Linked DNA regions of Homo sapiens: all the other regions are linked to region 2. Evidence: fine-mapped expression QTL. A gene starts in region 2. Each other region holds a variant in brackets. All regions are shown on one strand. Distances are between the middles of the regions. Region 1 overlaps FBF1 (Fas binding factor 1). Region 2 holds the start of TRIM65 (tripartite motif containing 65). Region 3 holds the start of UNC13D (unc-13 homolog D).

Region 1 (10,080 bases), 27 kb after region 2:
ACCTTGGCCTCCCAAAGCACTGGGATTACAGGTGTGAGCCACCACGCCCGGCCCCAAGCAGTCTTTCTTTTTTTTTTTTTTTTTCCTAGAGATGAGGTCTCACTATGTTGCCCAGGCTGGTCTTGAACTCCTAGCCTCAAGCAATCCTCCTGCCTTGGCCTCCCAAGTGTTTTGTTTTTTAAATGTTTTTAGAGACAGGGTTTTGTTCTGTGGTCCAGGCTGGAGTGCAGTGGCATCATAGCTCATTGCAGCCCTGATCTCTTGGGCTGAAGGTATCCTCCTGCCTCAGTTTCCCAAGTAGCTGGAACTACAGGAGTAGCTGTCATGCCAGCTTATTTAAAAATTGTTTTTAGAGATGAGGTCTCACTGTGTTGCCCAGACTGGTCTCAAACTCCTGGCCTCAAGTGATCCTCCCACCTCGGCCTCCCAAAGTGCTGGGATTACAGGTGTGAGCCACTGCACCCGGCCCTGAGCAGTCTTAAAAGGCTGCCTCTGCCTTCATCGACCTCTGACTCCCTTAGGTAACTTTTCTTAGTTTCCTTCTCTTCTAGAAAGGCAACCCTATAAACATGGCAGGCACAACAGCGCAAGCCTTTCCCAGGTGGATCTTGTTTCTAGCCTCTACTGCATGAGCAGGCGAGTGGATGACCCTGTGCTTAGTTAGACCCTAGGCGGCTTGCTGCTGCCATGCCATGCCTGAACAGCCTGTGGGTACCCCCTCCTGCCTCTGTAAGAGCAGGTGGCACCCCCACCCATGGGTGTGATGGGTCAGTGTGCTCAGCCCTCAGTCCTCACTCACTGGACTGGGAGGGAAGGACCCAACCCCTGTCCAAAGGCTGCTGAGCCACAGCGAAGGGTCTCGTGGGGATGGCTCTCTTCCGGCTACTCCTTGCAAGCCTGCTCCCCAGCTGCCTGTCCCTGGGCCTCACCGCTGCAGCTCCCGGAGCCGCTCCATTTCCTGGTCCTTCTCCTGCGCTATGGCCGCCAAGCGCCGCTGGTGCTGGGCCGTAAGCTCAGCACGGGCCTGTTCGGCCTCCTGGCACTGCGACAGATACCGAGCTGACAGCTCTTCGTTCTCTCTCCGGAGCCGCTCCTCCCGTTGCTGGTACGATGTTTCTAGCACCTTGATGCGGCTTCTGCCAACAGAACACCCAGCCATGGCGCAAGGAAGGCAGAGGGCTGCCGCCTAAAGGCCTCTCCAGGCACACTGGGTGGCCTTTGGGGTCAGTGTGAGATCCAAGGCAGAGCTGGGGCCAGCGCCAGGGTACCTGTGTGCACTCTCGATGAGCTCCAGGTCTGCCTGGTGCTGCTGCTGCAGACTCCCCAGCAGCAGCTCATGCTGGGCCCGTTCTAGCTCCAGCTTCCGCACCTGGGAGACAGCAGGAGGGCCAGCAACCAGGGAGGGGAGGTGGCTGTACTCCACGCTGCCCTGTGCCAACAGCCCTTCCTCCCTCCTGGGGAAGCTTCCAGCCACTCTCAGTGTCCCCTCCTGTCGCAACCCTGCCACCAGCACCAACGGCCCCGCTGCCCCTCACCTGGGCCTCCAGCTCTGCCAGCCGGGCCTGGCTATGCAGCAGCTCGGCCTGGAGCTCAGCGGGGCTGCACTGAAGTTGCACCTGTGCTGCCAGGAGCTGCTTCTGGTATTCTGTGCTCGGCAGCAGGCTCCGGGCCAGGGACTCTGGGAGCAGGGGCTGGAGGAGAGGAAGAGAGGTGTTTCTAGTTAGGGAGGGGACAGGGGCCCAGCTGAGATCAGCTACCTCCTGGCCCACTGCTCACTGGACCTCCCTGCATCTGATCTGTGGCTGCAGATGGGGCCAAGGCCTTGGAAAGTAACAGTCACTGCGGCTAAGCAGTCCCCAGTGTACCTCCCCTTGCAGATCTGGTCAGGAGCATGTCTCCCTCCACCCTCCGGAACAGCTTCCTCCCCAGCATGGTCTCCGGCTTCCCAGACAAATGGCTGAACCCCAGCAGAGTCTTCGCTATGACAAAAGCTGATGCTGGCTTTTCCTGTCAGGCCTGAAGCCCACATGTTGACACTAATCTGGTTCCCACGAGCTGTCCCCTACCCACCATCTCCCAGGGACACACTCCTGGGGGGGGGGGGGGCACACCTCCCAGGCCCAGGTGTCACAGGTGACTGCCACACATGGGAAACAGAGGCAGAGGTGTGGTGGGAGGATGGCAAGGGTGGAGGAGGCTTTCTTGACAGAACAGGACCCTGCGGCCCTGCTTTCTGACTGCAGCATCCCAGCTCCCCGGCCTGGCTGCCTCCTTAAACTCCCCACTGATGTAGGCAAATTAACACCCAGCTCTGCCCAGGAGCAGCGAGGCTAGAAATTCAGGCAAGTTCTAGTGGGGGGTGCCCGGGGAGCTGGCTGACGTCACATTTGGTATGTTTGACACATTTTTCCTGGCAGGTCGTCAGGTCAAACTGTGGGTATTGCCCCTGGGCATGGAGAATTGCTCCCTAGGCCCTGAGCTAGACCTGTCTGCCCACACCCCTACCTGGACGGGCACGGAAGGCTCTGTGGGTTTCTGGGTGCTCGGGAAACACGTGGCAGGCTCTGAAACATCAACAACAGAGAAATGAACAGGAGGCCCAGGGCACTGGGCCTGCGAGTGTCCAGGAGGGGCTGGTGTAACTCATGTCCCAGGGACCCCAAAGGAAGCTCAAAGCACCTCTTCCTCACCCAGGGTTAAACTCCCAAATGAAGCAGCAAACAAAAAACAAACCAGTGGCTGAGAGGTCTCCAGGGGCTGTTCCCCTCTTTGGGGAACCTGTAGGGAGTGCTGAGGCGGCATGGTTCTGAGTCACAGGGGACCTGAGGACACAGGGATGGGGCATGGTGAGCAGCCTCTGTGTGGGACACGGGGACGGGGCAGGGTGGGCAGCCTCTAGGTGGGACATGGGGACGGGGCAGGGTGGGCAGCCTCTACGTGGGACACGGGGATGGGGCAGGGTGGGCAGCCTCTGCTGGGACACGGGGACGGGGCAGGGTGGGCAGCCTCTAGGTGGGACACGGGGATGGGGCAGGGTGGGCAGCCTCTGTGTAGGGCACAGGGACGGAGCAGGGTGGGCAGCCTCTGTGTGGGACACGGGGACGGGGCAGGGGCAGGGTGAACAGCCTCTGTGTCCCTCTCTCAGGACAGAGGCCTGTGCTGCCCACCATGCTCTCATTCCCACTCAGCCCGCAGCCCAGGCCTACCCCGAGACACCAGGCCTGACACACGGTCTTTCTCGTGCAGTTGTTCCAGAACTCCCTCCAGCAGCTGCGTGCTCAAGCCCTTGTGTGCTGGTGAGAGGTTGGCTGAGGAAAGGCAGCGTTCAAGGTGAAGGTGACAGAAGGCCCAGGTCAGGCTGGATGAAGACAGGGCCCAGGACGGGCTTCACACGTGAAGCTCGTGGCCCCCCTTCCTCCTGCTTCCACCATCCCGTCTTGGGGCATTCTCCTCCCACGTCTGAGCTCCTGGGATTTCTGGGCATCTCTTCCCTTCCAGTACCCCCTTCCTGCCTCAATGTCCACAGTGGTGCAGTGAATGGACACTGTCCAAGCAGTGACAACGGAAATGTTATAGACACTGGAGTCAAGTTCAAGTTCAGAGCCCTGTTCCAGTCCACTTAACTTGGCTCAGCTCTAGATTAGGATTCTGCTCAGTCTACCAAATCTGGCTGGCTCCCTTTCCCATTATTTCCACCTCTTTCTCGGCTCACGGGTCAGTGAAGAGACAGGCTCTTTTCTGTTTTGGCCTGAGCTTTCCCCTCGGCCTCAGGTCAAAGTCAAAACTGCCCTCCTGTCATCAACCCCAGGACAGGGTGATGTCCCTGGGCTGTCACAAATTGCCCAGTTCACTCCCCTGGGCTCTGGCCACAGCACATCTCACCACTTCCTCTGGACTCCCCCAGCCTGCTGGCCCCTTGTGCCTTCCTGCCTTCAGAGGTCACTCGCTATCCTGCCCCACGGATAAGGGCTTCTCCAAGAGGCGCCTCTCGGCCACTATGTCTCCTCTAACACTCTCAAAGAGCACAGGGACATCTCAGCTCACACACGCCATACTCGCTTCAGTGGAGTCGGCAGAAGCACCGGCTGTTTGGATGCCGGGGCTTCCAGCCTGAGGGCGCTGTGACAGGGCAGCGGTGTGTCTGCCACCTCAGGGACCCTCTGTCTTCTCCTCGATCAAGTTAGCACCTGTCCCCATGGCGGTCAGGGCATGAATGTCAACAGCCCTCCTTCTTGGGTATGTCCCTGGGGCAAGCCTGGGAGCCAGAGGCTCTCTCTGCAGTGCCTAAAAGGCAGAGTAGCAAAGCCAAGAAGCGGCCTCTGTGGCCACGGCGCCCTGCCTTGTTCCCCAACTGCTGACTGAGGCTGCAACAGGTGAAGGGGCAAAGGGGCTCCTCAAGTCCCCAGCCAGTCCTCCCCCTACTAGCCACAGCAGCCTAAGTCAGTACCTGCCAGAAGGGGGATGGCCCGCTGTCCCCGCCAAATGCAGGCCCTCAGAGGTCCCAGCATGCTGCTCTCTGGCCAGGCCTTGGGACTTCTTCCGAGACAGGGCATGGCTCAGCCAGTCCTCTTTCTCCTCCTTGGAGGCTCGCAGCTTGGAAGCCTGGCTGGCTTTGGCAGGGGACCCTGCACCTTCAGTTGGTGGCTTTGCCCTGGAGGGGGGCAGCCCAGCTGGCGTGGAGTGCTGGCTCGCAGGAGGAGG[C/T]ACTGAGGGCGTGACAGGCACTGAACTTTCCCGATGGGCCTCTCTGGTGGGTGAGGCAGGGAACAGGTCCAAGTCCTCGTCCTTGAGGCCCAACCAGTCAGCTCCTCCCTTCCTGGGCTGGATGGGGCTGGAAGCCATTGGAGGGCTCTGTTTGGAGCCTGGTTCTCCCTTGGGGTCTGCGCCACTGTCTGCGAAGAACCTACTTCAAGACAGAAAGGAGGGTGTCAGGCAGGGGAAACAGCCAGTCCCAGTGGCCCCCTAGCAGCCTGCAGCTGGGCGTCACGATGCCCAGGGACCCTGCACAGTCAGCTGAGGCCCAGTGAGCAGTGGCTCCTGGACCGGCTCAGGTGGCAGGCCACGTGCTGTCTGTAGAACACCACGAAGTACAGAGACCTTGACTTCCATCACATGAACCAGGGACAGTTCTACCCACAGAGAACAGGAACAGGATCAAATGACAGCCATGGGCACACAGGTCTAAAGAAAAATCAGGCCGAGCACGGTGGCTCATGTCTGTAATCCCAGATCTTTGGGAGGCCAGGGTGGGCAGATCGCTTAAGGCCAGGAGTTCAAGACCAGCCTGGCCAACATGTGAAACCCCATCTCTACTAAAAACACAAAAAAATTAGTCAGGTGTGGTGGTGGGCGCCTGTAATCCCAGCTACTTGGGAGGCTGAGGCATGAGAATTGCTTGAACCCGGGAGGCAGAGGTTGTGGTAAGCCGAGATCATGCCACTGCACTCCAGCCTGGGCGACAGAGTGAGACTCTGTCTAAAAAAAATAATAATAAGTTGGATCAAGTGGTTTCCAGGTTTTCCAACAACAGTTACTTCATTTGTTCGGCCGTGGCCTTCATCTGTCACTGACCAGTGGCAGCAGGTTCCCAGGGTTAAGAACGTACTGGGTATGGGAAGTAATGCCGATGTGCTTAGAGCTATTCAGATAGAAAGAGGATGAAGAAGCCAACCTGGCAAATGGGAACAACTGCTGAACCTGGGAAAGGATGAGAGGGGCTCCTGGTGCTGTTCTTACAACTTCTGAAGTTTTTTTTTGAGACGGAGTCTCGCTCTATTGCCCAGGCTGGAGTGCAGTGAGTGGTGCAATCTCAGCTCACCACAACTTCCGCCTCTAGGATTCAAGCTATTCTCCTGCCTCAGCCTCCCGAGTAGCTGGAATCACAGGCGCCCACCACCACGCCCAGCTAATTTTTGTATTTTCAGCAGAGACGGGGTTTCACCATGTTGGCCAGGCTGGTCTTGAACTCCTGACCTCAGGTGATCCACCTGCCTTGGTCTCCCAAACTGCTGAGATTACAGGCATGAGCCACCATACCCAGCCGACTTTTGAAGTTTGAAATTACTTCAAAATACAAAGTTTAAAATATATACTGGCAAAAGAACTCCAAACTCAGAAAATCCTATCACTGATTTAATTTTTTTTTTTGTAAACTGAGAGGATCACGCTGTCAGAATTGTCACGGCAGGTTCGACAGCAGAGTTCCTGGGAAGCGGGGTCTAAGAAGCCACCGCAGATGCCAGTGGTCTTGCTACCCATCAGGAAGTATGTTCCTTGGGGAGACCGAGCGACATCACAGCCTTTTATGATTTCAGGGGCTTTAGGTGGAGGCAGGCCCACCTGCCCCTTTCCTTCTGAGGCTGGGTGGGGCACTGGCGAACCTGAGCAGCGTCTGGGATGGGGGTTCCCACTGGGGCCATCTCCTCCACTCTGTCTGGGCTGGCGGGACCAGGCCATCTCCCGCTTCCTTCAGCACCTGCAGAGCTGAGGGCCTTGTACCCTGTGGCCTCCCACATGAGACTCTCGGGTGGGACAGGGGACAGCTGCAGGGGCCTGTCTTCCCAGTGGCCGACCTGTCTCAAGAGGCCAAGCCTCCTGCAGGCCCCACTTACCTGACAGACTGCCGGCGGGACTGCCGGCCCTCAGAGGAGACCACAGTGGGCTGATAGGCTCCAAAGGTGAAGTCCTCGTCACCCCACATATCTTCACTGTCTGTGAATTAAGGAGCCTGTGACCGTGATCTGGAGTAGGGGAACCAAGCTCATTTGCGGCTGCAAAATTCTAACAAAAGCTGAATTTGGTAGCTTGTTGTGTAAGACAAGCAGAGGGAAGCTGCTGTGAAGGGAGCACCTCAGGCACTGGCCAGGAAGATGCAGTGGCCTTGCAGTAGCCAGACCCTGCCCCAGGATCCCTCGAGGTCAGGTCCAGCGAGCGGCATGTGTCACAAGAATGATTCTCAGCAGACAGCTTGTGGGCTGATGCTTTGAGAAACATGTCCAGAGCAGTGCTTTTCAAATGCGAGCTGCTACCCATGAGAGGGCTGAGAAACCAGCTTAATGTGTCACAGCCAGTGTGTTTCCAAATCAAACAGCATCTCAATCATAGACAACTGAGCACGAACAGTGGTCACGGTAAGTATTATTTCACGGTAAGTATTATTTTGTCTCAGCTATAGACGTGTATAATCACATGTGTGTATCAGGATGTGAGGCTGATTTCTCATTATAGGTTGTGATGAAAGCCTGATCTAGAGGCCTCCCTCCCGTCCTGTTGCGGCCCCCGCAAGCCTCCTTACCCTGTGGCCTCTGGTACTTCTTGTCTAGCTTGAACTCCCTGTGCTCCCCGGTGCCCGGGCGGGCCAGGAGTTTGGTGGCCATGCCTCGACCCAGCAGCTCATCCAGCGTGGAGCGAGCAGGGCGAGGCCCTTCCCTGCAGGACGGGACACACGGCAGGAACGTGTAGGTATGAGGGGCTCTCGGGAATCCCACAGTACCCGTCCACCAGCTTTTCCCTGAACCTGAGGCAGCAGCCTGGCCTACTCAGGGATCCTTACTGGTCTCCTATCTGCCTCTTCTCTGCTTTGGGGCTGTCTCCAAACCCCAAGGTGGCCATGATGTCATCCCCATCATCAAACAACAATTCTTCTTTTTTTCGGATGGGGGTGTCCCCAGGAGTTAGAGGAATAGAGGGACCTGAAAGACAAAACAAGGCCCAATGCCTGCAGCCTTCTTGCCCTCAACTGTGATATCTGAATGGGGTTGGGGGTGGTTTCTCTGCACCTTTGGGTAGGACGACAGGCTTTAGACCTGCCTGGTCTGTCCACGGGACCCAATTCCTCCAGCCTACTCCCAGACTCACACGTCCTACCTTCCTATTCCTAAAGGCTGATGATCTCTTTGTACTGGACCTTAGACCTCTGGTCCCCACCTGGGAGAGGCCTCTGGTTCTGCACCAGAAAGGCTGGTTAGCTTGTTGCCAATAAACTCTTCCTCCAGGATGGGAAATGAGCCCACTCCACCCTACCTTGATCTCTCACTGTGCTGGGGCTCTTGTCAGAAGCTGTTTTACTCTGTGTCACAGGCGGCTGCTTGGTGATTCCTCCTTCATCATAGGAGAGAAGTCCTCTCAATGGGTCTTCCAAGTCTCACAGCAGAAGGGAAAGCACAGGTCAGACTGCAGCACTTAGTTGAGGAAAAGCAAGCCTGAACTGGGGAGCAGCGCTCGAGTCAAGGCTTCTAGCTGCTCCAGTACATAAACAAGCCCCCTGGCATCTGGAGGGTGGGGCCTGGGGCAACGGGGACTCCACAAAAAGACAGGCCGGGCAAGGAGAGAGGGAGTTGGAGGGCGGCCCTGGACCTACGGGGCCTGCCTCAGGCTTGCCGGTGGGGCCTCTGACTCTGCAGGCTGCATGGCCTTCTGGAAATGTCCCTCAAGCATCAGAAGAGAAGTAAAATATCCACACATTCATGACGGGAAAGGGGCTCCTTCCTATACTTGGGAAGATCTTCAGTTTGATGCCTGGCTTTAAGGTCTTTGCAAATAAGTTCCCTAATATCTCAGCCAATACAATATAGCTGGTCCCGACATGAATTCACGAGGAAGTAAACCAGTGGCACCCATGTGACATAGGCAGCAGCTGGGCCTCGGGCCAGCAAGCATGCCTAGGCTGCTCCACTCCCAAACCAGAGTGTCCCAGAGGCATGACAGGAGCCTATGGTACCTTCAGAGGAAAACCTCCTGTTCTGATGCCCAGAGCTGCTGGGAGACGGAAGTGACTTCTTGGTGGGAATGGCACCCCCTGCAGGAAGCAGAAGACAAGGTCATGGGCCTGAGTCTCTCCTGGCCAAAGTCCTCCTCCCATATCATGGACTGGGGCCCCTGGGATGGGGTGCACTTCTTCCTGGGAAGCTGGGGGCTCATGGCCATGGGCACAGCCAAGGGAGGAGTCTCCAGTTCTGCCATGGGCTTCTGGCAGGGAAACGAGGTAGGAGCTACCTCTGCTTCCTCATCATGAGTCACTCCAGAGACATGGGTTCAGGAGAGGCACAGGCTGCCATAGAGTTCTCCATTTTAACTCACACAGCTTCTCCAGGAGCTGCCCATGTTGGACCCAGAGGGCCTGGAACAGCTCGAGGAAGGGAGGAAACTCAAGCTGTCCCCTTACCCCACCACACACACTCAAACACACACACGCACAAATGCTCCTTGGCCTCTCCATCCTGTGCAGAGAAAACCCAAGGACATGAACGCTTCCTACTAGCATCTTCCACGTCCTCAAAGTCTCCCTAGCAGATGCGAGGAGCCGTCTCCCATGCACCTTTCTCACTGGCTACTGACCCACCTGCAGGCTTGGGGTGGTTGGGCAGCTCTCCTTTCCCAGGGTCCTTTGCAGCTTTTTTGCTAGGGGCTGAATTAGATTTCTTCAGACCTAAGATATCAGCATCCATGCCGTCCAGGTCCTAGAAAACCAGGGAGGGAGGGCAGAGGACTATGTCTGATAAGGGGCTGAGGACTTCCACCTGAGAGAGATGGGCTGTTGGCACCCCAGGTGTAGAATTGTGAGAAAACAAAGGAAAATGAGAAAACTGTTGAGAAAAACAGTGAGTGAAGAAAGAAAATGGAACTAAAGGTAAGCAGGGGGAGGTGGAATGGAGTCCAGCTCATGGTTCTGGGATGAGAGACTCAAAGTCAGCACCAAAAATTGAGTCAGAGGACTTGTGGGTTATGCCCAGGGATCCTAGGTGGCTGGTCTCGGGAAAAAAGCTTTCTTTTTTTTCTTTTTTTAGACAGGATATTGGCCGGGCGCGGTGGCTCATGCCTAGAATCCCAGCACTTTGGGCCGAGGCAGGTGGATCACCAGGTCAAGAAATCGAGACCATCCTGGCCAACATGATGAAACCCTGTCTCTACAAAAAATACAAAAATTAGTTGGGTGTGGTGGTGCACGCCTGTAATCCCAGCTACTTGGGAGGCTGAGGTAGGAGAATCGCTTGAACCTGGGAGGTGGAGGTTGCAGTGAGCCGAGATCATGCCACTGCACTCCAGCCTAGGCAACAGAGCAAGACTCCGTCTCAAAAAAATAAA
Region 2 (8,906 bases):
TGTGAGGCCATGGTGGGCGGGCAGGCACAGGCCTCGTACCTGGATCTGGCTGCTTTGCTTGCGCAGCTCTAGTAGCTGGCCTTCGGCCTGGGTGGCCTGCTGCTGGGTAACCTCCAGGCTGGCTCTCAGCTGGGCCTGTGGTGCGGGCCCACGGGACAAGCAACAAGAGAAGGCCAGGATTGGCTGTGATGTCCTTTCTCAGACAACCAACCATGCCTGCAGACACCAGGCAGCCCCTCCCCACGCCACCCCAGGCCAGCCTCCAGAGCACCGGCCTCGGTCTAACCCAGGGAGAGTTGGGGCCGTGCCCCGGGGGGGTCCAGACAAAGTCCTTCCTAATCTGCAGCAGGGTGGTGCCTGAGCAGAGCGGAAGCCTTGGGCTCAGGACCCAACTTCCATTCCCATTTCTACCTCTTGCATGCTGAGCAAGCTGAGGCCAAGCACCTGTCCTCTCTGGGCCTAACCCCCCACCCATCAATACAGGAAAGCGATAATGCTGGCTCAGGAGGCCTCGCAGGGAGGACCCCAAACACTAAAGCCGTTGGTCCCTGTCTCACTGCAGAGGGGTCAGTGGCCCAGGAGGCCCTGGGGCTTGAGAAGCTGACTGCAGGGACCTCCCAAAGCACCAAAGCTGTCTGACAAGTGGGCAGTTACTTGCTGGATAAACTAGATTCTTCTGGGGATCCGGCCAGTCCCTGGCCCTAGTTTTGAGACTGAGAGGGGAGGAAGGGACCCCTATTCGGTTGCGCTCCCTGAGTCCCTTGGGAATCAAAACACCGTGCTCTCATGAGAGCAGGACAAACCACGCAGGTCCCAGGGGCTCCATTCCCAGCACCTGGTCAAAAGCTTCACCACCTTGTTTCTGCTCCTCCCGCAATGCACTGAGATGGGGACCATTACTATCCCCACATCACAGAGGAGGAAACGGGCTCAGAGAAGTTGATAATTTGGTCAAAGTCCTCAGATCTTCCTAAGCCCAGAGCTCCTCCGGGCCCCCAGCCTCCAGCATTTCACACAGGAACACAGGAGGCCGGAGGGCAGGCTCTCCCAGGGCACCCAACCCTCCCCCAGGGACAGGCACCCCCATGTCCCTTTCCCTCTCTCTTGCAAAATCCTGGCTCCCCTGGTGCTACTGGCTGCCCCTGTCGCTCCCTTCCTCCACATGGCCCTCATCTACCGGCCTCCAACTCAAACTTCCGTGCCTAGCTCAGTCTTCTGCACCCGCCCATGAGCAGTACATCTCGTCTCATCCTCCTCGGCGGCTTCAGCAGCTACAAGGAATGTCCCGCAACACTCTGGAGCCCTTTTCCTTCACCTCATCTCAGCCGCTCCTGTGAACTCACCCTGGCCCTGTCACCAGCTCTAAAATCTCCATTCTAGGCATCGATTCTTCCTTCTCTGACCACTGCCTTCGTGCCCTCTCCTGTTCCAGCCACCTCTGTCTCAGTCCTCCCACCTCACCGACCCCCAGCCGTGCACTCTCCCATCCCTCCCTGCCCATCAGGCCTCCTGGCCACCCCTTCCCTTCCTGTCCCATCCAGCGTCCCTGCGCCATCCTCCATCCACGCCTTAGCCCCAGGCCTCCTCTGTCCCCGAATGATTCCACATCCTGTCTTCGCTGCTGAAATGGGTTTTGTCAAGGGCACGGACCACCTCCACAGTACCGATGCTGAAGGTCATTTCTGTCCTCGTACTGAGCCTCTGATCAGCATGGGCATCCTGCCCGTTCTCTTCCTGGCACCCCTGTCTCCAGGTGCCACACAGGGCTGCCATTCCCCCGACCTTCCCCATCTCCCTGGGAGCTCCAGCTTGGAACCTTCTCTTCCTCCTAGCGCTAATGATTCCCAGCTCTCGACTTCCAGCTCCCCGCTCCTGAGCTTTGGAGCTCACAGCAAGCTCCGCCTCCCGGGTTCACGCCATTCTCCAGCCTCAGCCACCAGAGGAGCTGGGACTACAGGCGCCCGCCACCAGGCCTGGCTAATTTTTTGTATTTTTAGTAGAGACAGGGTTTCACCATGTTAGCCAGGATGGTCTCAATCTCCTGACCTCGTGATCCACCGGCCTCCGCCTCCCAAAGTGCTGGGATTACAGGCGTGAGCCACTGCACCCGGTGGTGGCCAGGCTGCGGGGGGTCCGGCCCCCTCCTGCTCCTGGCGGCAGCACCCACTTGAGGAGGTGACCCTCACTCATGGTGCACAAGCTGCAAACACAACAGCCCTTGGTCTGGCAGAAGAGCTCCAGCAGCTGCCCGGGGCGGGGTCAGCGCGCGGCAGGGCTGGGGCCAGGGTCCCAGGTGCCACAGGCCCGTCCCCTGGTTTGTCCCACTGGCCACTGTGACCTCTATATGTCCAAGGCCAAACTCTGCCCTCCACCTACGCCTCTCAGGACATAGCACCCCAGCCACCTGCGTGCTCAAGACAGAAACCCAGGTGTCTCCCTTGCCGCCCTCTCTGCTGTCCCCCGTGTCCCCTCTGGCCTGCTTTCGCCTCCACAAGGTACCACTTCCCCTCAGCGTTTCTCATCTCCTCCTCCATCTTGGTCTCCCTTCCCTGATCCCCAGCTGGTTCTTTGCCTCCCTGCACTCCTACCCGATTCGGGTCTTACATCCTGCCCCCTTCAGCCCCCAGCCAGGTGATCAGTCTCCATGAAGCCCAAATCTGATCATGTGCCAACCTGCTTCCAAGCCTATAATGGCCCCCATGACCCTACAGTAAGAGCCAGACTCCCCCAGGACCCTGCCCGATCCTGCCCCTGCTGACCCCCAGGGCCTGGCCCACAGATCTCAGTGGCACAAATCTGCCACTAGGGACCCCGCGTGCCCAGTTCTTTCCCATCCCAGAGACGGGACCAGGCTGATTCCTCTGCCTAGAATGCTCTTCCCCAGGTCTTTCTCCTGGCTTGCGCTTCCTCAATCCTCACATGCCAGCCTGAAGGCGGCCTCCCCTTCCTCCTCCTGGCCCGTTTAGCAGGGTCACCCCAACCCCTCTATCACATGCCATGTGCTTTCCTCACTGCATTTTGTAATAATACATTCACGCCTTACTGGAACACTGACTTCTTAAGTGGATTCTAAGTCTCTTAAGGGCAGGGAGCTCGTCTGATCCATTTACCAACAGCCCCCATAGCCCCCTCGCCCTCCACAACCCCGCACAGCGAATGAAAGGAGGCTCTCGGAGCGCAGGAGACACACGACGGTTCTCTAGCGCTTGGGCACGGAGCAGGGAGCTGCTGCCTCACGCCCAGGCTTTGTTCATCCAGAGGGCACCGAGCAGCTTCTGAGACCCACCCTGTGTCACTGGCCGGGCTGCATATCCCAGTCTGATGCACAGACCCACGATTTTTTGTTTGTTTATTTTCTGAGACGGAGTCTCGCTCTGTCGCCCAGACTGGAGTGCAGTGGCACGATCTCGGCTTACTGCAAGCTCCACTTCCCGGGTTCACGCCATTCTCCTGCCTCAGCCTCCCGAGTAGATGGGACTACAGGCGCCCGCCACCACGCCCGGCTAACTTTTTGTATTTTTAGTAGAGACCGGGTTTCACCGTGTTAGCCAGGATGGTCTCGATCTCCTGACCTCGTGATCCGCCCGCCTCGGCCTCCCAAAGTGCTGGGATTACAGTCGTGAGCCACTGCGCCTGGCAGACCCACGACTTTTATAATCAGCTCCCAGGTTGGGAGAAGCCCCTTACAGATGAGGCTCCCCGCCCCCGCCGGGTGCCCGAGAGAGCAGGGCGCGGCCCGCAGGAGTCACCCGGCGGTGGCCAGGCTGCGGCGGGTCCGGACCCCTCCCGCTCCCGGCGGATGCGTCACCTCGCGCTTGAGGCGCTCGGCATCCAGCAGCGCCCGCTCGTGGAGGCGACACTCGCGCACGGTGCACACGCTGCACACACAGCGGCCCTCGGTCCGGCAGAAGAGCTCCAGCGGCCGCCCGTGGCGGGGGCAGCGCGCGGCAGGGTCGGGGCCGGGGCCGGGATCGGGGCCGGGATCCCGGGCGGGCCCGGCGCGCACCACCTCCAGCACGCCGCTGAGGGCCACGTTGCGGCGCAGCTCGGCGCCGTCGGGAAAGGGCTCCCGGCACTCGGGGCACGCCTTTCCGCAGCGGTCCCACCAGTCCCGGATGCAGGCCCCGCAGAAGTTGTGGCCGCAGGGCAGCGTCACTGGGTCCTGGTAGAGCCCCAGGCAGATGGCGCAGGTCAGCTTCTCCTCCAGCAGCTGCGCGGCCATGGCCCGGCGGCGGCGAGAGCCAGGCGGGCCCCGGGCGTCTTAAAGGGACCGCGGGCCTCGCGCGCTGAGGGCGCCTGGGCGTGGCTAACGCGGGGCGGGGCGAGATCCGGGCGGGGCGGGGCGAGATCCGCGCCCGGGAAGGCGGAGGGGGGCGGCAGGCCCTTCTCTGACACCCTCGACGAGCGACCGCCGCAGGGGCCTAGGCCACCCCTGCCCACCTCGGCCTGGCCCGCTCGAAGGTTCCGCGTTCCCGCCTTGCGCCCCTCCCTCCGTTAGGGTCCACGCCACCCCGGCTGAGAGCTGAGTTCGGCTCTCTAGGGTCCCAGCCTGGCGGGTCCATCCCACCCCCCTGGGCCTTCAGCCCAGGTCCTGGAGACCAGAGGCTCGAAAACCCCGCCAGGACTCCGGGCTTCTGACCACGGGCCGCGCGGAACCTCTTCTGGACTCATCTGCCAGTCGCCTAACAGCATAGACCCCCACCCCCAACAATCCCCCGGGGCTTGGCGATGAAACGGGCTGGCGGGCTCCCTGCAGACCCGAGCACTGCTGCACTTTTTCCTGGAGCTGGGTTTCGGACACTTGCCAGACTGGGGTGTCTCCCTTCTCTGGGCTACACGTAATTTTGGTTCTTTTAAAGTAAACAGCGAGATGGAAATGTCTGGTCACCAAGAGACAGGGACCAGTTAACTGGTATTTTTCAAATGGCCCTGAATGAATACACAAACCAGCTTTCATCTGCAATCAGCATCCCCTCTTCCTGCTGCCCTCCGCTGGGGAGAGTTCCTTGCCTGGGGTCCAAGCTGATCTGCAGCCTCAGTATTTACAGGCACTCCAGCATTTCCCCTGAAGCTGAGCAGGCAAGGCGGGTCTGGGGCCTAGCGCCCACCTACCTGACAGTGTGTATCAGGCCAGGGGGAACCCCAGGAGAGTACGGCCTTTCTAACCAAGCTGGGCTGATGTTGAGGCGGCACGAGCTCTCACTGCTGCAGCAAGCACTGCGTCCTCTGTGCGGCCATAGACGAAGTTTCTTTCTGGACAAAGTGCACGGATCTACCCTCCACCTACTAGTTAGCCAGACTTCTGCTTTTGGTAAGGGAGAAACAAAACACCTAACCATCCAGCCGCAAGACTCCATGGGTTTTCTGACCCTGAGCAGGTCTCTTGAGACACGCTGTTGCCTACCTAATGTGGCTTCTCCTCCCAAGCATGGGGTGGGGGCTGGAGCCTGTGCAGAGGGTCAGTGCTCGGGCAGGCACTCTCTCTCCAGGGGCCGGTGGGACCCCCCTGAGGCACAGAGCCAGTGCTCAATAAATGCTCCTTCCTGAGCCCAGCTGCTCTGCTCCACTTTTTCGGGGAGCTGGGTTTCAGGAACCTGCTGGATTGGGATGTCTCCCTTCCCTGGGCCACACCTGTTTTTGGCCCACTGCCTGCTTTTGCTTCGGATCCCAGGGCCCCTGACACCCTCAGAAGACGGAGGTGAGGACGCACTTAGTGGGGTGGGAGGCAGCCCGTTTCCCACCCATGAAGCTCCATCGGGGTCCTCTGGCCCTGGAGCACCGACCCAGGCCAGCTATGGCAGAAATCCCTTTTTTTAAAAAATACAGGCAGGGTCTCATTATATTGCCAGCTGGTCTTGAACTCCTGGGCTCAAGCGACCCTCCCTTCTCAGCCTCCCAGTGTTGGAATTACAGGTGTGAGCCACCAAGCCCGGCAAGAAATCATGTTTATTCACATTCCCCACCCCACCACCTGAGAGTCACTTTCACTCCAAGCCCTGGGCCTGACGGGAGGGGGCCAAAGAGGGGGGCTGCCTAAGGCAGGGCCCAGACCCCACAGTGTGGGCCTCTGGAGCTGTGTCTTTACTCTTGCTGCCGATCAATCCCATGCTCTGAAATGCGCACACTCTGGCTCCTTAGTAGATGCCATAGGTGGGCTCATGACTGTCCCTGTACCGGTCCAGGTAGCGCAGGGGCTGCCGGTGGGGGAAGCGCTTCTGCTTGGGGTGGTAAGGGGGCGGCCGCACGAACTCAAACACCGGCTCCCGCATGTCTGCAAGAAGAGTGAGGGGTACGGGGTGGTCTGCTGGCCTGCGCCCCCTCAGGCTGAGGCCTGCCCACCAGGGACCTGCCGCAGCCTTCCCCTAACAAAGCTTCTCCCTGGCAGGGCAGGCGAGGCCTGGGAGCTCAGGCCCACCCAGTGCCCCAGCCCCATGGCCCTTACCCAGAAGCTGGTGGAAGATGTAGGTGACGGAGTCATCCCAGCGGCACTGGAAGAAGGACAAGCCGGCTGGAGTCATGGTTTCTTGGTGTTTCTTGTAGAAATCAAAAGTGCGGAAGGTCCGCTGGGCCAGCTGATAGCTATGAGAAGATAGAGAGCGTATGAGAGTGTGGAGTGGGGCACCAGAGCCCCTCACCCCGCCACCCCAACAGGTAACCCTGAGAGGCCCCTGGGAGTCTGCTAGCACCCTATCCTGCTCTTCTGCCAGTCTCAAGGCTGAGGTCAAGAGAGAACTGAGCAAGAGTGACCGTTCCAGGGGAGCTGGCCTGAGGCCGGGTTATGTGTGGGTGGTGTAGATTACCAGGGTGAGGGGCGTGCGTCCTCAGAGAAGTCAATCGGCTGGTCCTGCTTGAAGAGCAGGAAGGCAAGACGGTGGATGCCGGAGCCTCGGGCAGGGAAGGGGGGGAGGTAGGGACACGTCACCTGTCCTTCAGCCACCCGGTTACCCGGGATGTTGGTTCTGGGAGGAGGAAAGTCCCGGTTAATTACCACTCCAGGGAGGCAGCAGGAGTGTCCCCTCAGCTCCATGCACACCCTAGAGGCTGACATGACTCCCTGGGAGGACAGCTCTAAGCATCTCTCTCCTGGGACAGAGGAGGCAGCCAAGCTCTGTGAACGCCGGGACATGCTGCAAATACGGGAAGCGGGCTGGAGGAGCTCCGAGTGGGGGACAGGGCTCCAGAGAGCATCAGCTTGACAGCAAGGCCATGCAGCCGCTTCCAGGCCCCGGGAGCCGGTGGGTCCGCCACAGTCACTGAGGCTAGAAAGCCAGGCCACTTTTGGCTGCTTTTCCCTCTGCGTCCTGAAGTCTCCAGGACCTCGTCAGGGAGTGTGTGCCCAGCCTGGCACAGGGGCGGCCAACGCCTCAGGCACAAATCCCCAGAGGGTCCTGCCGCATAGGCTGGTAACAGTTGAATAAAAATGACGGAAACCAGCCTCCCAGTCACTGTCCCCAGTTAACCAGAAGGCTCAAAGTTGGGGTCACTGGCCTGACCTCTGCCCCCTGGCCTGGTGTTCAGAGCCAAAAGCTACCAAGATGGAAGGCCGCCCAGTCTGGGCCCAGGGAAGGAGCGCCCAGTGGTTCAAGGAGCACCTGGGGGACGCCACAGCTGCTAGGCCTCTCCCGCTCCTTCTCCCACGTGACTGTCACAGTCCACCTCACGCTGAGTAAGGCATGTGGTGCCATTATCCCAGTTTTACAGGTGAAGAAATGAGTTTAGAGACGAAGGGCCCAGGCATGGTGGCTCACGCTTATAATCCTAGCACTTTGGGAGGCGGAGGCGGGCAGATCGCTTGAGCTCAGGAGACCAGCCTGGGCAACATGGTGAAACCCTGTCTCTATAAAAAAATACAAAAATTAGCTGGGTGTAGTGGTTTGCACCTGTAGTCCCAGCTACTCAGGAGACTGAGGTGGGAAGAGCACCTGAGCCCAGGAGTTAGCGGCTGCAATTAGCCATGATTGCACCACTGTACTCCAGCCTGGGGGACAGAGTGAGACCCTGTCTCAAAAAAAAAAAAAAAAAAGAAAAGAAAAGATGAGGAGGCTTGTGGGGACTGACCGAGGCCTACTGCAAACTTTGTCTCCTGTAGCTGTCTTCAAGTAGACACGTGGATCCCAGGGCCCCTAACACCCTCAGGAGGCAGAGGTGGCAGGTGAATTCAAGGTCCCATGGGTAGTCCATGAAACTCAGGAGCAGCTCAGTCCAGGCTCCCAGCTCCTCTTCCCGCCTGGGCAGCACCCCCTACCCCCAGTACTCCAGTACTCACAGCAGCCAGTGGAGGTACTCAGCATCTGGCTCCAGCAGGTGCCCATCTGCACAAAAACACACCTGCTGACCACGGCCCAGCCGACCACGGCCCTGCCACCCCCTCCCTTGTTAGGAGCCAGCGCTGGAGATCTCCACCTGGCCCCTCCCCCAGCCCCCCAGGGCCCTGGCTCATAGGAGGTGAGCGGGGCAGGAGGCCTGGTGAGCCCCAGACACCCACCCAAGCTAGTGAGTAGCAACGTCCACAAGGAGCCCTCTTCTGCCTCATAGGTCACCTCTGGCGCTTGGGCAGCCTGGCAGGGTGAGAAGGAAGCTGTCAGCCCCACCAGGGACAGGCCAGCTGTTGCAGGGAGCCTTGGAGAAAGGGGTGCCCACTCTGACCCAAAAGCCCTTGACAACCCCTGGCACAGGCAGGCAGGCAAAGGGATGCGTAGAGAAGCAGCCCTGCAGAGTTGCCTGTCCAGGCAACAACCACAAAAACGAACATGTGCCAAGGCCGGGCCAGGAGGGCACACCACAGACAGCAGGCTGGTCACAGGAATGTGCTAAGACAGAGCCTCTTTTTCCTTCATTTTGTTCTATTTTCTTTGAAATTGTCATGGTGTCGTCTTCCAGGAAATCAAAGAGACAGAGAACAACAA
Region 3 (10,080 bases), 53 kb before region 2:
GTGAAACCCCATCTCTACTAAAAATACAAAAAATTAGCCGGGCGCGGTGGCTGGCGCCTGTAGTCCCAGCTACTCGGGAGGCTGAGGCAGGAGAATGGCGTGAACCCAGGAGGCGGAGCCTGCAGTGAGCCAAGATCGTGCCACTGCACTCCGGCCTGGGCGAAAGAGCAAGACTCTGTCTCAAAAAAAAAAAGCAGCAAAATGGCTCGGTGCAGTGGCTCATGCCTATAATCTCAGCACTTTGAGAGGCCAAGGCAGGCAGATCACCTGAGGTCGGGAGTTGGAGACCAGCTTGACCAACATGGAGAAACCCCGTCTCTACTAAAAATACAAAGTTAGCTGGGCGTGGTGGCGCATGCCTGTAATCCCAGCTACTCGGGAGGCTGAGGCAGGAGAATCACTTGAACCTGGAAGGCAGAGGTTGCATGCAGTGAGTCAAGATTGCACCATTCCACTCCAGCCTGGGCAACAAGGGTGAAACTCCGTTTCAAAAAAAAAAAAAAAAAGCAGCAAAATGATGACCCTGCAGTTCCAGCACTTGTGTTTCATGAGAAGCTGGAGATCTGGATGGTATGTCAAATCTCCAGATAGCTTTTTCTAATATTTTTTGGAAATGAGGTCTCACTCTGTGATCCGGGCAGGAGTGTTGGTGTGATCATAGCTCACTGCAGCCTTGAAATCCTGGGCTCAAGTGATCCTCCTGCCTCAGCCTCCCAAAGTCCTGGGATTACAGGAGTGAGCCACCGCATCAGCCGAATCTCTAGACTTTTTAAAATTGGCAACTGATTCAAAACTTAAAACACACATTTTGGGCCAAAGGGAACTCTGCTGAGAATTACACTTTGGGCTACCGGCTTGGAGGAGGGCAGGGGGCGTGGGGGGCTGGTGGCTCAGGGGTTCTGCCCAGGGCTGTGTACTCACGCCATGGACTGGTGGAAGTCGGATAGGTCCTTCTGTGTGGCGTGCAGAAAGAGGACGGTGGCAGCCTGGGGACTCAGCGACCCGTCCCAGGAGGTGCTTCCCGCCTGAGGGGAGCAGGTGGAGGAGTGTCAGGACCTGAAGGGCAGCCCCGGCTGCGCCCAGCCCCAGGAGGGCAATACCTCGTGCTGGGTGACCTCGTGGGACACAAGCTGCTGCAGGAGGTGGAGGTGCACGGTGTAGCTCGGCTGCGAGCGGCTGGCCGAAGTGGCTCTCTGCAATGAGGCCTCTGTGAGCAGACAGGGCCTCACACTGGGTGCAGCCAGCCCCGCAACCCAGCAGACCGCCGCAAGAGCTGGGCATGGCCACTGGCCCAGTACCCGACCTACCCGCTTATGGATGAGTTGGAACTGGAGGTGGCACTGGCCTCGGTCTGGGTAGGTCTCAGTGCGGGGTTCCAGGGGGTACCACTGGTCCTCTCGGCAGCGCAGGTCCTGACAGGCGGGGATGCCCAGCCCGTGAGCGTCAGAACCTCATAGAGTCGGGGCAGCGGAGGCGACAGGAGGTGGACCCCAGGCTCAGCTTTGTGAGGACACAGAGCCTCTCCCCAGAACCCCTCCCAACCCCCTCCCTCTGCCTCGCTCCTGGGCCCCTTTCCTCATCCTCCTCACCTGCAGCCTCAGAACCACGTTCCCCAGAAAGTCGTCCTGGCCTTTGTCCTTCCGGGCCTCTTTAAAGATCCTGCGTCAGGCAGGGTCCCATAAGGGGGACGCAGCAAGGGTCGGAAGGGATTAGGCTGGAATCCACCCCCGGCCGCAGCCACCTGGACCCCAAAGGAGCCTGCACCCCAGCATCCAGTGTGCATGTTGGGGGATGGAGGGCAAAAGGAGCCCCAACCCCTTCCCTGTGAGCCCTGCAACACGAACCTGCGAAGCCCATGCAGATCCGTGAGCTCCCCAAGCTTCTGTCGGACAGACTCCACAGTGTCCAGGTCCCTGGCAGGACAGAGGTTTGAGAAGGAAGCAGAGAGAGTGCCTACGACCTCTTCCAGGAGGAGGTTCCGCCTCTCTCACCCCAGATCCCTTCCCTTCCCATCCCTAGGGGCAGGCCAGGTCACTCACCACATGTCCAGATGAAAGCTCGCATTGGTGATGTCCTCAAACTCCCTGTATGGAGAAAAGGGCGTGGTTGAGGGCCCTGGAGGGTGGATGCCCCCAGACGAAGCAGTAAGTGACCACAGCCCAGAGCCATGGAGTTGTAGCCTATCCCTGCCAAACTTCCCTCCTCCCAGCCGCATCCCTTTTTTTTTTTTTTTTTTTTTTTTTGAGATGGAGTCTAGTTCTGTCCCCCAGGCTGGAGGAGTGCAGTGGCAGGATCTAACTCACTGCAACCTCTGCCTCCTGGGTTCAAGCAATTTTCCTGCCTCAGCCTTCCAAGTAGCTGGGATTACAGGTGCCCGCCACCACACCTGGCTAATTTTTGTATTTTTAGTAGAGACGGGGTTTCACTGTGTTGGCCACACTGGTCTTGAGCTTCTGACCTCGTGATCCGCCCGCCTAGGCCTCCCAAAGTGCTGGGATTACAAGCGTGAGCCACCGCGCCCAGCCTTTTTTTTTTTTTTTTTGAGACAGAGTCTCACTCTGTCACCCAGGCTGGAGTGCAGTGGCGTGATCTCGGCTCACTGCAACCTCCGCCTCCCGGGTTCAAGTGATTCTCCTGCCTCAGCCTCTTAAGTAGCTGGGATTACAGGCATGCACCTCCACGCCCGGCTAATTTTTGTACTTTTAGGAGAGGTGGGCCTTCATTGTGTTGGCCAGGCTGGTCTCAAACTCCTGACCTCAGGTGATCCACCTGCCTCGGCCTCCCAAAAGTGCTGGGATTACAGGCATGAGTCCCTGCGCCTGGCCCCCACTAATTTTTTTTTTTTTTTTTGAGACAGAGTGTCGCTCTGTCACCAGGCTGGAGTGCAGTGGTGCTATCTCGGCTCACTGCAACCTCCGCCTCCCAGGTTCAAGCGATTCCCCTGCCTCAGCCTTCCGAGTAGCTGGGACTACAGGCGCCTGCCACCACGCCCGGCTAATTTTTTGTATTTTAGTAGAGACGGGGTTTCACCGTGTTAGCCAGGATGGTCTCAATCTCCTGACCTCATGATCTGCCCTCCTCAGCCTCCCAAAATGCTGGGATTATAGGCGTGAGCCACCACGCCCGGCCTTTTTTGTATTTTTAGTAGAGATGGGGTTTTGCCATGTTGGCCAGGCTGGTCTCAGTCTCCTGGCCTCCCAAAGTGCTGGGATTACAGGTGGGAACCACTGCACCCATCCCTGCCTCCTTTCAGGTACAGCTTCAGGCACCCCCAGACTCACCCACAAGGGCCTGACCCTCCTTGCCCCATCAGCACGTGTGGCATTGATCTTGTTCTGTCCCATCTGACCTACTGTCCACCTAACGTGCCTGGAGATGGGCTTCTCCTCTAGTCTTTGCCCAGGGCCAAACCCCCTCCCCTGAGCCAGGACGACCTACTCATCTCATTGTCTGGGGCAGACCCTGCTACCCAGGAAAGACCTGGATAGAGTGGGGGCTGGAGCACGGCCACGTACAGGATGAAGGTCTCGTCCCAGACGGGGTTGAGTGTCTGGGTGATGACCTGCGTGCGGTGGGTCTCCTCCTCGGGGATGGTGTGCCTCACCACAGCCTTCTGCCGATGCCGGGACCCGGGGCTGCCCCCTGGCACACCTACCCCCTGCTCAATGCCCAGCAGGCAGTAGGGGTCGCTGAACCCTGTGGAGGAGTGGGGAAGACGAGGCAGCCAGGGAGTCGGCTGGGTCCCTGGGAGAGGCCCTCATCACCCCCGCCCGGGGCTGAGCCTCCTCCGGGGGAGAGGGAAGGGGACCAGCAGCATGGGGGGCCAGCGCTACAGGGCTTCTTGGAAGTGGGTGCTCCCGCCAAGAGTCCTGGGCCAGGCTGTGATGGGAGAGGAAGGAGCCAGGAAGAAGCCCCTTGGGGACCCCACCCCATGCTCACCACTGACATCTTTGCCCAGAATGCCCTTGGCCTGTTTCACTGTTGCCTTCAGACAAAATATTGGCTTCTGGAGGGACAGGAGGGATGGCCTGAGTCCCTGAGGGGGCTGGGCTTCCCAGGCCCCTCCTTGCCCAGGGGGACCCTGGCCCCAGGTTACCTCAAGCTCCCTGACCCGCTGCAGTGTCTGCTGGTGCTCCTCGGGCTCCACGTGGAAGGCCTGGTGGGGAGGCAGGCGGGTGGGTGGCTGGGGGCACCAGACAGGGCAGCTGCAGGAAGGGGGGTGGGGTGGGAGCCGGGCTCACCTCCTGCAGGTATCGCAGCAGCTCAGAGGCCTCCGTCACATGGTTGGGCTCAGGATGACCCAGGCGGTGCAAGACAGTGTAGAGTGCGTCCTCGTAGAGCAGGGCCCGCTAAGACACACGGGGTCACCTTGGGGACCCCACCAGCCACCCCTGGCACCAACACCTCTCGCCATGGGCAGGACAAGGGCGGCTTGTGCAGCGGAGGGAGTTGAGACCCAGGAGTCCCCTCCCCACCGCAAGTTGCTTGCTGCCATCAGCGTCGGCCGGCAGGAGGACACACAGCCGCCCTCCCCACCTCTCTGCACCCCAGCACTCTGACTCTTACCTGCTCGGGGGAGAAGTGGTGGGATGGAGGCTGGATCTGCAGAGCAAGGTGGAAAGGCAGTGTCCCGGGAGGCCCAGAGCAGGCTCAGATGGACAGGAATGGCTCCTCTGAGGCCTGATCCAGGCCAAGGGTATGGGGGCCCCAGCACCCCGGCCTCCAGCCCCAGTGATGCCCCGCACCTGTTCCCCCAGCAGGCCTCCTGGAGGTCCGTCCCTGGGCCCGCCGTGGCTGAGGTCCATGGGTGCCCAGCAGCGCGAGCCCTCCGCACCCGCACCCCACCTCCCTCCCTTCCCCAGAGGAAACAGCTCTGCTTATCAGTGGCGGCTGCTCCTCACCCAGCAGCGGAAGTGAGGCTCGGCAGCGGAGGTGAGGGGGGTGCCACGTCGGCCTGGGGGTCTGCTGCTCCCCGAACAGCTCACCCCACAGCAGGGACACCCCCACCTAATGGAGTCGGCTCTTCTGAAGCTGGAGGAGTAGGGGATGGGGTCAGGCCAACCGGGAGGGAGGGGTTCTGAGAGCCTCAGACCACAGGGCCTGAGGCCCACAGTGGCCCAGAGTCCATCTGGCAGCCCCTGCTCTGCTGGCCCAGGGGGCTCTCCCCAGGGTGGAGTAGGCAGGGGAGGGTCGCTGGTCCCCAGTCCCAGCCTTCGAGAGGTGGGGCCAGACAGCAGGGCACCCGTACCCGAGACCACAGTGCTCCCCAAGGC[C/T]AGCTCTCTCCCCAGTGAGGTCACTCCTACCTCCGGGGCCATTTGGGGCGGGGGATCCTGTAGATCTCTGACTCTGCGGCGCCTTATCTTGATGGCCTGGCGCAAGAAGGGAGGGCGCTGCTGCGGATGGGAGAGGAGTGTCGCCATGGTGGCCTTCTCTGCCCTTCCCTGTCCGCTGGTGCTGGGTGAAGACAGCGAAGCCACAGGATTATGCAAAGAGCCTGGGGCTGCCACCCTCTGTCAGGGGAAGTTTTAGGGAGGGTGGCTGGGAGGGACGGAAGGGTGAGGGTTTCACCGCTTCGGAGAGGCAGTCTCCCAGGCCCCCTGCACCTTCCCCAGCTGGGATCCCTACAGGACCCTCCTCTGGCTGGAGCAGAAGGTGGACCCCGTGGGCAGGCCTGGCCCCGCCCCACCCTCCTACAGAGGCCCTGGGAAGGGGACAACGCTCTCAGCAGGGGGCGGGGGGGCCCAGAACAGGCGGGCAGCATCCTGCCCCATCCATGTGCTGTGCCCAGGCTGGGCTGAACCCTGAGAGAAGCTGACCTGGGCCCGGGGGGGTTCTCACCCCACTTCCTCGAGTGCGTCCAGACGTGGGGCGGGGCGGGGTGGGGTGGGGTGTGGTGGCGCCCAGGGTGGGGGCTCCCAAGAGGCGTCTCCCTGGAGGACAGCCAGTTGCTCAGCCTGCCTGGCCCCACAGGTGACATTCCTTGGAGATGACGGGGCCAAGCTGTGCTGGGCAGGGACAGCCCTGTGCCCCTGCCCCCACCTTGGCAGTCAGGACAGTGCTCCCTTCAGACACCCTTGAAGGGGGCTTAGCCAAGTCCCAGAGAGCTCTGGGCCAGGCTGGCCAGGAGGAGGAGGCAGAGGGGCTGCTGCCCGATCTCTCCTGAGGACAGACTTGGCTCCCGGGGGACAGGAAAATGCGCCTCAGCATGGGGCTTTCCTAGAGCTCTGTGGCCTGCCCACCCTGTGCCCAGTGCTGGGCTGGGGGACTTGCGGGCGTGTGGGCCTGGTCACGGCCTTTGGCCATTTCCCACCCTCCTGTCCCTTCAAGTTCACAGCAGGGCACGTGACGTGGGTGGTGGCAAGCCGGCTTGGCTACCTCAGTGTCCCTGTCACAGGTCCTGACGTGCTCCAGGGCTGACTCGGCCTCCTCCCTCCAGCAACCAGGACTTAGGCCAGGGCTGCCATTCCTCGAGGAGCCAGCAGGGGACAAGGTGGCAGCCCCAACTCCTCCCTTCAAGGCCAACTCTGGGCCACATCCACCTCTGTCCCAGCCAGGCCCTGGGGACTCAGTGGGGGAGGGACACAGCTGCTGAGCGACAACCGTTAAGAACCAGCTCCAGAGGCCAGAGCTGTCTTGGGGACCAGACAGGCTGGCTGGGCCGTGAGAATGGGGATCCTCCCATGGGAGGGAACCGTCCCAGAAGTCTCCAGGGCCCTCAGCGGCCAGACGGCTCTCCTTCCGGAAGAGACCCCCGGGTCACCACACGCAGAGCCAGAAAGGGTCCAGTTATTTCATTTTTACTATTTCACATTTTCAGCAAACAAATCGAGGTGCAAACAGGGTTTATTTCACATTAATATATTAACTGGATTTTTTGTCAAATAAATAGGGAATTCTCTTTAAATAACCATCTCCTCACTTCATGGCCAGTCCAGGGACAAACAAGAGTGAATGTTAGCGCATCCAGGGGCACAAAGCTTAAGGGGAAGAAGCAGGCTGGGGGGCTGGTGGCAGGTCCCGGCCAGCACACAGGGTCAGGGGCCCTTGTTCCCGGCCCCACCCAGCAGCCACCAAGTGGACAGACATGCATTCTCTGGTTCCAGTCAGGAAGCTCCTTCTAGAAGGAAGTGAGAGGTGAGGGAAAGCAAATTCCAGAAACACCAGCAAAAGGCAGAAGGGCTTCCTCCCAGCCTCGGCGGCCCTGCCCCGACGCCACCCAAGCCCTGGAAGCTCATTTTACAGCTTCAAAAGTCACACAGGGTGGCAACAACATGACCCAGGACAGGGAAGGGAAGGAAGGGTGGCGGGGGCTGCAGCTGGACCCTGGCTGAGTGGAATGCGGGCGCGGTGGCCTTCTGAGACCAGCACAGACCAGCAGAGGGAATGTGAGCAGGGTCTGGCAGGGCCCGGGAAGACACCTGGCTGGTCTGAAGTGGCTCATGAGGCTGAGTGTAGCAGTGGGTGCCAGACTGAGGGAGCTGGACTGCGGTGGAGGAGGTGGCCAGAGAGTCCCTTCGAGGGGAGAAGCTGAGAGTGAAACAGGAACAGGGGATGCTCCGTGCTCCCAGAAGAGCCCCAGACGGTGAGGGAGGTACGCTGGGCAGCACTGTGGGCTCCGGGCTGGCATGGGAAGCTGGGCGGCACCTCTCCCGAGGCCGGGGGCCCTAATGTCCCACAATGCTAGTTCCTGGTAATTGTTTATGATCAGACCTGGAGGGAGAACAAGGCGCCCCCTCCCCTCCCCAAGCCCCAGCACAGCCCCGATGGGAGGGGTAGGGTAGAGAGATGAGGGTGGGAGGCAGGGAGGCAGGAGGGCCTACTGGGTCTTCTTATCTTCCGGTGGGTAGTAGGGAGGTGGCGGCGGCTGGCTCTAAAGAAGGGAGAAAGGAGAGACTTGCATTAGAAGGTTTAAAACATGGTGCGGTCATCCCCCTGCGGCTCCCAGCATCTGCGGCTGTGGGGCTGCACCGGCACTGCCAAGCCCTCTCACCGTGGGCATGTAGACGTTGTGAGGATTGCCTGGGTTGTAATAGGCGCTGGCGGCTGCTTCTGCGGCCTTGGCTTCGGCTGTGAGAGCAAACACACCTGGTGTCGGTGACAAGTTCTCCTCCCCCTGAGCTCAGCTAAGAGACCCCGGGCCCCCATGGCTCGGGGCAGCTGGTGCTGGGGGTCCAGTTCCACCAATGAGAGCAGCAGGTGAGGTTTCCTGAGCACATGCCACGCGCTGGCACGGTCCTTTCCAGGCCCATCGCATGTCTCACCTCATCTAATCCTTGAGCCAATGCCCCAGGTGCCACTGTGACCGACCAGCTGAGTGTAGATGAGAGGATCGAGAGGCACACAGGGTGACCTTCCCCGCCCAGGGCACATGGATAGCTAAGGGATGGGGGTGGGGCCAGAATCTAGCTCCGCTCCACCAGGCCACAGCCCTGCTGGGCCCCTGGGGTAGTCCAGGGGTCATCCATCATCTGCGGCTCTCAGCAGTCTCTGGCCATTCTGAGGCTCTCTGTGCGACATCGGGGAGGAGAGGGCTGGTCCCGAAGGGCTGCCAGCACCCAAGGGCCCTCACCTGCAGGAGTGGAGGGGACATCGGGGCCGCTGACCGGAGGTTCCATGGGCCCAGGGTAGGGCGGTGGTGGGGGCTGCACGTATCCCATGGCCCCGTCCATCATGGGGGGTCCTGGATAGAACTCTGCTCGGTGAGAGAGTAACAAGGACATGGTGAGCACCCGGCTGCGGCCCCCTCCCGGGTGAGGGGGGCCTCTCCAGCTCCTTCGTTGGTCCTGAAGCAGCTCAAGGAATAAAGTCTCCCTGGCCTGGGGGGAGCCTGGGTAGGTGGGCTCATGAGGGGAGTGGGGGCAGCAAAGGACACACTCACCAGGTGGGGGCGGTGGATAGGGGTAGCCAGGAGGGCAGGGGTACATTCCATTGGCGACTGGCGGGGGATAGACATAGGCCCCGCTGGGCATGTAAGAGTAGCCATAGGCTCCACTGGGGACTTCACCTCTGGAGGCTACGAGTACAAGGGGAAAGAGAAATGAGCGTGGCCTGCCTTGGGGCGGGGAGAGGGCAGCCCCGCTGCCTGCAGATGGGAGCTACTGGGTCTCAGGAATGTGCCCCGCAGACATCCTCTGTCCATCCCACTCCACCCTCCACCCATACTCGGGGGGCCACCTTGGTCAGGGATGAGAGAGGACGGGAGAGGTCAGAGCCAGGGGAAGGCAAGGGAGGTCAAGGGCAAGGCTGGAGGGTGGACAGAGGCCGGGAGGGAGGCTCAGGGCTGGGGTAGGAGTGAGCTGGCGGAGGATGTCTGCTGGCCCATCCCTCGGTCATTTTCAATGGCTGCGGAACCGCAGTCGAATGGTTGGTTTAGTGTTTGTTTTATGAGGCCATAGTAAAGTGTCCTTGAGTCCAAACAGCTTTGTCAAAACGTCATCCACCTGCCCCAGGCAGGGAAACGCAGTCTCTGAGGTACAGGACAGAGCTGATGCCAATGACAGCTTTCCTTCCCAACTCCTAGGCCTGGTCAGCCTGGTGCCCAAACACTTACCTCTTGAGTTCTTGAAAAAGCAAAACGAAAAGGAAGCAAACTCATACCAAACCCCTACATGTTTAGTGTGTCTTTAGCCCCTAATCTTCGGAGCCTGGATACCTTGAGATGCCACCTGGAGCATCCGCTGTCCGAACTCAATGGCGCCCCCTGCCGTGAAAGTCAACTTGTAGGAAGCAGAGCCTTCCCAGCCACCTGAAAGGGGAAGGACAGTGAATAAACAGCACAGGAAAAGAAAACTTATGCCCAAAGAGATGGCTGTTTTCCTCTCCAGGACTTCATCCAACGCCCGGGAGGCCTGCGGGGGCTGGGCCTGCACTGTGATGGGGACTTCCTGGTGCCATGGTTTCCAGCCTGCTGCCTGCATAGGAGCCAGCACTGCAGCCTGGCCTGGCCCTGCTGTACTCGCTTCCCCCTTTGGAACAATGGCCTCTCCTTCCTGGAACAAGCCTGTCCTCCCACCCTTGGCCCAATATGTACACGGGTGCCAAGGCCACATCAAGGTTTCTCTCCGCCCCCAGTCAAGCACT

Evidence for each region. PIP is the estimated chance that this variant, and not a neighbour inherited with it, causes the effect.
Region 1: its variant is fine-mapped to the expression of TRIM65 in spleen (GTEx, PIP 0.97). The same link has a PIP of 0.9 or more in sun-exposed skin and transverse colon.
Region 3: its variant is fine-mapped to the expression of TRIM65 in ileum (GTEx, PIP above 0.99).

The regions. Positions count from the first base shown.
Region 1 is chr17:75,918,739-75,928,818 of GRCh38, forward strand. It overlaps FBF1 (Fas binding factor 1), which reads right to left. Exons shown (of 30, transcript NM_001319193.2): 8 at 9,338-9,455; 9 at 8,717-8,794; 10 at 8,020-8,139; 11 at 7,550-7,688; 12 at 7,292-7,425; 13 at 6,609-6,708; 14 at 4,448-4,903; 15 at 3,207-3,308; 16 at 2,734-2,822; 17 at 2,506-2,564; 18 at 1,536-1,691; 19 at 1,269-1,369; 20 at 930-1,136. Among named protein-coding and RNA genes, the nearest start is that of FBF1, 17 kb to the right of the region's middle. RefSeq lists enhancers at 2,369-3,568, 6,965-8,164. The variant C/T (reference allele first, on the strand shown) is at 4,702.
Region 2 is chr17:75,892,716-75,901,621 of GRCh38, forward strand. It overlaps TRIM65 (tripartite motif containing 65), which reads right to left and starts at 4,236. Exons shown (of 6, transcript NM_173547.4): 1 at 3,809-4,236; 2 at 40-135. The coding sequence starts at 4,222. MRPL38 (mitochondrial ribosomal protein L38) reads right to left here. Exons shown (of 9, transcript NM_032478.4): 5 at 8,486-8,558; 6 at 8,267-8,312; 7 at 6,801-6,959; 8 at 6,443-6,579; 9 at 5,929-6,271. The coding sequence ends at 6,135. RefSeq lists silencers at 3,506-4,075, 4,106-4,585 and enhancers at 3,953-4,662, 4,663-5,370.
Region 3 is chr17:75,838,918-75,848,997 of GRCh38, forward strand. UNC13D (unc-13 homolog D) reads right to left here and starts at 5,487. Exons shown (of 32, transcript NM_199242.3): 1 at 5,304-5,487; 2 at 4,567-4,602; 3 at 4,242-4,349; 4 at 4,097-4,156; 5 at 3,940-4,006; 6 at 3,516-3,696; 7 at 2,040-2,084; 8 at 1,845-1,913; 9 at 1,590-1,659; 10 at 1,308-1,412; 11 at 1,101-1,193; 12 at 922-1,025. The coding sequence starts at 5,420. It overlaps WBP2 (WW domain binding protein 2), which reads right to left. Exons shown (of 8, transcript NM_012478.4): 4 at 9,653-9,745; 5 at 8,879-9,013; 6 at 8,570-8,692; 7 at 7,991-8,067; 8 at 6,782-7,870. The coding sequence ends at 7,817. RefSeq lists enhancers at 1-168, 5,004-5,708, 6,127-6,206, 6,337-6,426 and silencers at 4,757-4,816, 5,667-5,726, 5,737-5,896. The variant C/T (reference allele first, on the strand shown) is at 5,274.